2 separate regions of the Homo sapiens genome follow, and region 2 is linked to region 1. Evidence: fine-mapped expression QTL. A gene starts in region 1. The other region holds a variant in brackets. All regions are shown on one strand. Distances are from middle to middle.

What was found.
Region 2: its variant is fine-mapped to the expression of MAT1A in unexposed skin (GTEx, PIP 0.97).

Annotation. Positions count from the first base shown.
Region 1 is chr10:80,287,518-80,291,907 of GRCh38, forward strand. It overlaps MAT1A (methionine adenosyltransferase 1A), which reads right to left and starts at 2,141. Exons shown (of 9, transcript NM_000429.3): 1 at 1,816-2,141. The coding sequence starts at 1,906. RefSeq lists an enhancer at 1,976-2,270.
Region 2 is chr10:80,252,754-80,257,143 of GRCh38, forward strand. It overlaps LOC100130698 (a long non-coding RNA gene), which reads left to right. Exons shown (of 6, transcript NR_136612.1): 6 at 1-2,655. Among named protein-coding and RNA genes, the nearest start is that of MAT1A, 35 kb to the right of the region's middle. RefSeq lists enhancers at 1,014-1,133, 3,599-4,099, 4,100-4,390. The variant C/A (reference allele first, on the strand shown) is at 2,644.

The DNA of each region.
Region 1 (4,390 bases):
GTCATTAAGTATACAAAACAATCAATTGATTGGCTGGCACGTTCATTCTCAGTCCTCTGAGCACATTGCTGCTGCGCACAATGGACCATTCTTGGGACCACTAGCCGCTGCATGCCAAAAAACCCACTTCCTCCGGGTGGAGTGAATCTTTCTCCTAACCTATACATGAGGCTCATAGCCATGGAGCTGATCAGAATGTGTCAGAAATCAGCAATGTATCTGAGATTGAAAATACAGTAAACCTAGATACTTTATACAGTTATGCACAATGAAAGAGGCTATTTACATTGAACTGAGCTAAGTCACATAAAAAACTCAATTCAATTCAAGGTTTTTCAACAGCTGCACTATTAACATTTTGGGCCAGATAATTCTTGAGAGGCTGTCCTGTGCACTGTAGGATGCTTAGCAGTGTGCCTGACCTCTACTCAATACATGGCAGTAGCACCTTACCCCCACCTCCTATAGTTGTGATAACTGCAAATGTCTCCAGACAGTACAAAATGCTCTTGGGGGTTGTGGGGCAAAACTGCCACCAGTCAAAAACCACTGGCTAAAGTATATGGAAGGAGTAGTGCACTGAGGTGTCCAAAGCCAAGTTACAAGGTAGGAAAGATAAATATCTTTGAGGAAGAACAAGAGCAAGGAAGATGGAAAAAGGCAGACTTGGCAATAAGTTAGCAAACACTCGAATGAATTTTGAAGAGGGACTTAACTATAGAAGTCTGTACATCTATCCCCCAGGGGTCTCCAAGAGCAGTGGTTCTCACCCCAGAGCATCAGCATCTCCTGGGAACTTGTCAAAAATGCAAATTCTCGAGCCTCTCCCAAGACCTACTGAATCAGAAACTCTGGAGGGTGGGGCCCAGCCCTCTGTTGTCTTGACAAGCCCTCTGGGGGATTCTGAAGCTCCCTGAAGTTTGAGAACCACTGTCCTACACTTGAGGCTCTGAATGTCCTGGTCCTAGTTCTCACCGTCATCAAGGAAGCTTCTCTCACTTCCGCACATCACAGTCTACCTACTTTTCAGGGACCAAAATCAATGCCTAAATTTTCTTCCTGTTTAGAAGGTCTTCTATTCTGCTCTTAGAGAACGTTACTGAGTCCCCAGCACCTAGAGGTCTACCCCAGCAGTGACCAGGGTGCAGGCTTTCATGCCTAAGTTGCACATGCTTCACATGCAAAATTTAGTCACCCATGGTCTTGTTTCAGGAACATTCCCTGTTGACTTAAATTGGCCATGGATAATAGATTAAAGCTTTCCTAAAAAAAAAATACATATAAAAAGTTAAGACCTGATCATATATTTTGCATGTGTCATACTCTTAGCCAGCCAGCTGCTACTCCCTGTCTTGGACCCACTGTGCTGGCGTGCTGGTGGTGGGCCACAGCACGGCTTCATCAGGAGGGACTGTTTTATGAAACTACTCCATGCTGTTTCTCTAGAGATCCCTTCTGGTAACTCACACACATTGCTCTGAAGAGCTCTGGTAAAAGTGACTCCTACAGGTACGAAGTTACAGTCAGATAGGAGGAATGAGCTCTGGCATTCCATTGCGCAGTAGGGTGACTGAAGGGCTAGAAGAGGGAATTTTGAATGTTTTCACCACAAAGAAGTAGTCAATGTCTGTGGCAATGGGTATGCCCATTATCCTAATTTGATCATTAAATGTTATACTCATGGATCAAAACAACACACGGTACCCCATAAATATGCACAATTATTATGTGTCAAATTAAAACCATTTGTAAGTGACTCCCTCAGTATAGGCTTGGAATGATCGTTTTCCAGTCAGTCCAAGACAGCCTACTTACCCGGGTGTCCCTCTCCCACAGACTCCGATGTGAACATGAAGACTCCTTCACTTAGAGAGTGGTCACACAAGCCATCCACCGGTCCATTCATCTTCTCACACTTCTCCACTCACGCTTCTTTCAGTGAACAATTTTGAGGCTGTGACTTTGCCTGAGTTTTTTTTTCTTCTTCTTCTTCTTCTTTCAACCCAACAGGCTTGTCTTTGGCAGAGCCACGGGGATCACTTCTGCCTAACTGCCTGTGAGCACGTGAGAACAGGCGAGGACTGCTGAGAAGGGAGGGAGTGGATGGAACACGGGATGTGTCCCTCCCTCCAGCTTGCCACAGCTTGCTCCTGAGCGACTCCTATATATGGAAAAGCGAAAGTGCCTGAAAAATCATGTGAGAAAATTGGAGGAGTCCATTTCCTAAGAGGGGGGTCTTCTTACCTGGAGGAATTTCAATTCTTATCCCTGACTTTCCAAACTCTAAGCACCTGGTCAAGGTAAGGTAAAGAAGGCTGTATAGTTCTGCAGAATTGAAGCTCCTTTGGGACTCTCCTTCAGCTCTTAGCCAATCTTGGTAGTGCTCCAGAGTTCACAACCCACCTTGGAGAGCAGGGGTCTGTGATCACCCAGAGATACAAGCAGGCAACAAGAAACTCTTTCTCAGAGATATGGTTTAGGCTAAGATTGCAACAGTGCCTTTGCTGTTGGGTGTCCCCTCCTCCCCTGCGTCTCATCTGGATTGGTCTCTTCCCATTCTATCTTCTCAGGGAGAGCAGGAGCACGCACCTGTATTCTGAGCCAGCTGTGATGTTACACAACAGATTCATTTTAGAGGAAAAGCTTTGAGTCCACGTGTTTCTGCTAACAGAAACCACCTAACCTGTCAACTTCTCTAAAAGGCTGGCAGGCATTTTAACAAGCAAGATCTTTAAAAAGTATCTATCTGGGGAGGTTACAGAGAACAATGTGTGTGTGTGTGTGTGTGTGTGTGTGTTTTTTTTAGAAAAAAATGCTTTTGAGAAATGGATTCATTACAGGGAAATTATCAAAGTCCAGTTTCCCAAAGCTTCCGGATTATAAACATCTACATATTCAGTTCTATACATGTAATAAACATCGTGTTCACATAACTCTTGCATTATTTTTTGCTTTGACCAAAAAAAGTAGTAAACAGGATTATATCTTTAGTTCATGTACTAAATGACAGCGTCTCACACTCTCAGATCCAGCTGCATCCTCAGACCCAAGGAACAATGGGGAATTGAGACCACAGAAAATGAGGATGGGTGGAGAAACCAGTTCCCACTAGAATGCAATAAAAAGTAATCAACCATAACCTTGTGCATCAAAGCTTGGACTGTGGGAAGCAAAAGTTAGGAAGCAATAGCCTCACCTAACAATTCTGGTGACCAAACCCCCCTCTGAGTTTATTATCAAGCATTTGGAAAAATTTTTTCTGGCACACATTCTGGTGCTCCAAAGCTTGAGTTTTGCTAACTGATGACCAAACATCATCCCTTCAGGGAATTAAAGCAGTATTAAGGTGACCTCTTCTGGAATAAAGTAAGGGATGTTACATATGCATAGCCAATCAACGGCATTTAACAAGGAGTGAACTGAAGTGCTTAGGCACAAGACTGTTGAAAGTTCAGAGAGGAAAAGGCCACTGGGAAGGGATGGACAAACGAGGAATCAAATAGGGACTTTAGACAACATCGCCTTGTCATTGCCAGCACACAGGACTCCTCTGTTTGCACTTAAGCTATTTCAACATTGCTGGCCCTTAGTAAATTTCTTCTGGGTACATTAGTTTTAAACCTAGAGGCAATATGAGCTAATGTTTAATTTGAACTGTAGAACTAGGTGACCTTAGCAGTTAAAATTGTATGATAACAATTATGGTCCAAATTTGATTTAAGAACAAGATGATGTGTAAGTAGCAGGTACTCTTCAAGGTTCCTAGAGTTATCAGGAAGACAGAAAACAAAGCAGTAGCTGCCTTCTGAATTCCATAAGTAACAGCACCATGGGGTGGAAGGCGTCAGGGTGGGGAGACGATCTGTTACACAGATATGTGTGCAGGGGGCTTTGGCAGCCTGGATGCCAATTGAGGGTGTGAGGGAGGGATCTGAGAGGCACCTCGTTAAAAACTCATCTCAAGTATGAGTTTCATTTAAGACCCCAACTAAATACTAGGATGCCTTATATTCTTCTAGCAAGTAAATGTTAAGAAGCAGTACACGGAGCATGGTGGATGGAAGTGCAGGCTTCTGGACTAGGGTCCAACTTTTGCCTGTAACCTCCCATGCAGCATGGAGAAGGCTTCCTAACCTTTCTAATCTGTTGTTTCTTCTGCTGTAAAGCGGGTTAAATAATTACCTACCTCCTAGTGTTATTTTGAGAACTAAATGAGGTCATTTAGGTATGATGAGTATTGGACAAAGTGCTAGCACACAATACAAATTTAATAAATATCAGCTAATATTATTAAGCAGTCTATTTACATACATATGATTTTCCTCTGAACAAAAATAGATTATGGTATGTATACATATGTATGTATATGTGAATATACACATATACACAT
Region 2 (4,390 bases), 35 kb before region 1:
CTGACCTCATCCACCTCCTGCAGCTGTCAGTCCTCCGGGACCTCATTCACCTCCTGCAGCTGTCGGTCCTCCGGGACCTCATCCACCTCTCGAAGCTGGTGGTCCTCCGGAACCTCATCCACCTCCTGCAGCTGGTGGTCCTCCGGGACCTCATCCACCTTTTGCAGCTGTTGGTCTTCCGGGACCTCATTCACCTCCTGCAGCTGTTGGTCCTCTGGGACTTCATCCACACCCTGCAGCTGTAGGTCTTCTGGGACCTCATCCACCTCCTGCAGCTGTTGGTCCTCTGGGACCTCATCCACCTCCTGGAGCTGTAAGTCTTCTGGGACCTCATCAACATGCTACATGTGTCTGTCTTCCGGGACCTCATCCACCTCCTACAGCTCTTGGTCCTCCCAGACCTCATCCACGTCCAGCATGTGTCTTCCCTCCAGGACCTCATCCATCTTTTATAGCTGCCTTCCTCTAGGACATCATTTACCTTTTTGTTCTGTGAGGCCTCTGGGACCTCCGACTACATCTCCACTTAGTAACCTCTGGATCCTCAGCCACCCCTTCTACCTGGGTGGCGTCTGGCCCCTCAATAACCACCTTCACATGAATCTCCTCGGTTACTTCAATAATCTCCATTTGTGGTCCCTGGGACTTCAGCCACTTCCTCCACCAGGGTCTCCTCTAGTACATCTGCCACCTCCTCCACTTGGCTGGCCTCTGCTATCTGAACTCCTCCAGGACCTCAACCAGCTCCCCTACCCATTGTTGCCTGTAGGACCTCGACCACGACCTCCACATGTACTACTTGGTATATTTATCTGAACAGTATGAACTGAGTTGCAAAATGGATTCATCTTTCCCTTTCTGAATGAATAGAAATGTTACAGATTGTACTGCAGGGCTTTGCACTGGCTGAGGATGTGGTCACTTTGCTCAAGTTTCTGAGAGTACAAGTCAGTTGCATTATTTCCTCATCATGACCTTGGCAGAAGGTATCTTCTGTAGATGAGGAAAGAGTTTTTTTTCATTTTAAGGGGTGGGGGCAGAGTCTTGCTCTGTCACCAAGGCTGGGGTGCAGGGGTGCACTCCTGGCTCACTGCAACCTCCGTCTCCAGGGCTCAGGTGATCCTTCCACCTCAGCCTCCAGAGTAGCTGGGACTACAGGTGTGCAACACCATGCTTGGCTATTTTTATTTTTTAACTTTTTGTAGAGACCACGTTTCACCATGTTGCTCAGGCTGGCCTCAAGCTCCTGGAGCCATGCCATCTGCCCACTTTGGCCTCCCAAAGTGCTGAGATTACAAGTGTGAGCCACTGTGCCCAGCCAGAGGTTATTTATAGAAGCTAGAAATACAAGTTTTGCAGGCTTGTGTGGAACCTGGGCCATATGGCCAGCTCTGTGAGGGATGAGACCCATCCCTGGCTGGCAGGGCATCCTGTGTGCTGCAGCAGAGAGACCCACACTGAAGGGCACAGAGCTTCTGACCAGCCCAATGGAAACACAAGTGAAGGGACACAGGGTGCAGAAGGAGGAGACAGAATCTCCTGGGAGTAAACAGGAGGCTGTGGAAGAGAAAGCTGAAGCAGGGAGGTGTGACATGGGGGGTTGTTGAACTCAGGTAGAGCTGGAAGGCTGCTCCTAGCCAGGCAAGCAGCGTGAGCAGGAGCATGGAGGCTGCGGTGAGGGCCACACAGAGCTGCCATGGGAGCTCAGATACCACATTGTGCACAGGAAATTACCACCCCAGCACTTCCTTGTTGCCCTACAGCCTTTAGTCCATTATCGGTAGGAAGATGATTCTTTCCCTGGGTGCATGAAGGCTCTAGATCGGGGTGAATGAATGCCTAGAGGTCTGAAAATTTTAACTTGGTTCTGTCAGGGGAACCTGTCTCCCTGAGTTTTCACGGCCTAAGGAGACTAACAATGAGGATGGGTCTGGTTCAGTGGAGCTGCGGCCTTGGCCTTCAGAATGAGGCCAACTCTGGCTGGAAACTCAAGGCCAATCCTGAGCTGCTGTGACCTACTCTGATCTCCTGCACCCTCTCCTTCCCACCCACAACTCTCAGCTTTGCATCTCCCAACCTTGGCAGGCAAAATGCTTCCCCTTCCCTGTGTCTTTGCTGCCTAAGCCCAGACACCAACTCTCAGTAGAGCTCAGAGCCCCAGCTTTCTCAGAAATGAGCTGGGAATGATGCGATTATGAGGTCATGGTGAGGACAGGGAGACCAAGCTCATAAGGAAGGCATCTTGCAAAATAGCTGGTAGATGGTAGAGCCTCACCCCTCCCGCTGGTTAAATGAAAATATTTCCACTCAGAAGATCAGCAAAAGGTGTTCATTGAAGTTCATTTAATAAACCTTAGGGTGTAGCAGCTCAGGCTCTGGGATTTCCAGTTTCTCTTTCAAAAGATAAGGGAAAGCCCCTGTCTCCAAGATTAGAATTCAGATCCTTACGAGATGAAGAGATCCTAAAAATGCATACACAGTTAAACTCTGAGATTTGTATCTGTGATCTGTGGATAATTATTCTCCATGACATACAGACACAGATATGGCCACACACAGAAGTATTCAGCAGGGGCACAGATATTTCATAGAAGACAAAATGTATATTGGGCAAAAGAAGGTCACCTGGAAATAAACCGAAAT[C/A]TTTTTACCTTACAGGATAATTTTGAAATTTGAAGAGTCTCCTGGGCCATGATATCTTGGAAAAGTCTCTACCATATTTGATGCTCCATGTCCCATGCTTCCTCCTCTCTCTCTCATTTCCAGTGTTTCCCTTTAGAAACATTTGCAGTCCTATCTTTCTGGGTGTCCGCTTCCTGGAGGACCAGTTCACACCCCAGGGTATACCAGGTGTGACTCCTCATACACTATTCAAACTCAGGCAGATACTGCCTTGCTGGACACAGAAGCAGGGTTACCCTTTGGGTAGTGTTGACTGGGAAGGGTCCGAGGGGGGCTTCTGGGGTGGGGGAATATCCTGTATCCAGCCACGGGTGGAGGTTGTGCTCATTCATTCTAGAAAGAGTCACTGTGCTCCTAGTGACTGCCAGTGGTGCCTTGTGAGCAGATAGACAGTAATACATCCCCATGAGGTGGCCAACTTCTGACAGGGAATAGAAGGGGGCCCAGCAGTGGCTGTGGAGCCTGTGAGGGGCCTCGCAGAGACTCAGGGTTTGTCAGAGCCCATTCCCCACTGAGCCAGCTGCCCTCGGTAGAACCAACTCCAGGCAGCTCTAAGGGAAGTTGAGCTGGGTGTAGACATTTCTCCATAAGTCCTGTGCCCCCCACCATCTTCCTGTAATTTTTAAATTGTGTGATAGGCAGAGGTCGGTGGTGAGAGGCTCACTGAGCAGGACTGGAGAGGAGTAGAGAACGCAGGGGTGAGTTCAGTCAGAGGATGAGACAGGCAGAGAGAAGAGAGAGAAGGGATGAGAGAGGGAGGGGAAGGACAGAGAGAAGGAGAAAGACAAGGAGGATAGAGAGAGAGGGGTTGAAACAGTGAGAGAAAGAGAGAAGGGAGAGAGAGAGAAGGTGGAAGGTGAGGAGAGAGAGAGAGAGAGATGGAGATGGGAGGATGGAGTCATGGAGAGAAGTTGATTTGGGCCCAGGGGGAGAAAAGGAAAGCTGGAAGAGACAAAGACAGAAGGACCCACAGTGAGAACCAAGGGAGTTGGAGGGAGGGAGATGTCCAGAGAGCTGGCCAGTGATCCACACACGGAGGGAAAGGCAGAGAAAAAAAGACAGAGAAGAGAGGAATGAAGACAGGAAACAAGAGAGATGGAGAGGACTGAGACAGGGAGAGGAGGCTGGAGAGAATCACAGAGAAACAGCACAATAGAGGTAGGGAAAGAGTTGTTGAGGACAGGGTCACAGAGAGAAAGGAAGGACAAAGAGGGAGGCAGAGAGAAGCAGAGAAAGAGAAAGCAGGGAACAAAAGGGTGAGCCTGCAGGAGGTGGAGGGGGGCAGATGGCCTGGGTGAGGGGACAGCAAAGGCAGGTAGTCCTGGGACTCAGGAGCCATGGGAGTTCTTGCACTCCAAGGCTGTGACCTCCTTAAGGCCCAGCGCCATGAAAGCCCATCACATGGGGACACGCAGGCCTCCCTTGTGGCTGGGTTGCTGTGTGGAGCCTCTGGGTCTGTCCCTGAAGCAAGGACTTCCAGGGGAAAGGGCTGCCCTGTCTCAGGTTTGCCTCCTCTGTGGGGTGGGGATCCCAGCAGCCTCCCTCGCTGCCTGGTCCCTGCTGCATTTCCCATCCTGGCCAGCTAGGTGGCTGTCAAGTCCCATACCTGGGAACCAGGCTGAGACCCTTTGTCCAGCCTCATCTGTTCTCACCTGGCTCCAGATTCCAGCCACAGCTCTGGCAAACAGTCCACACATGCTGGCTGTCA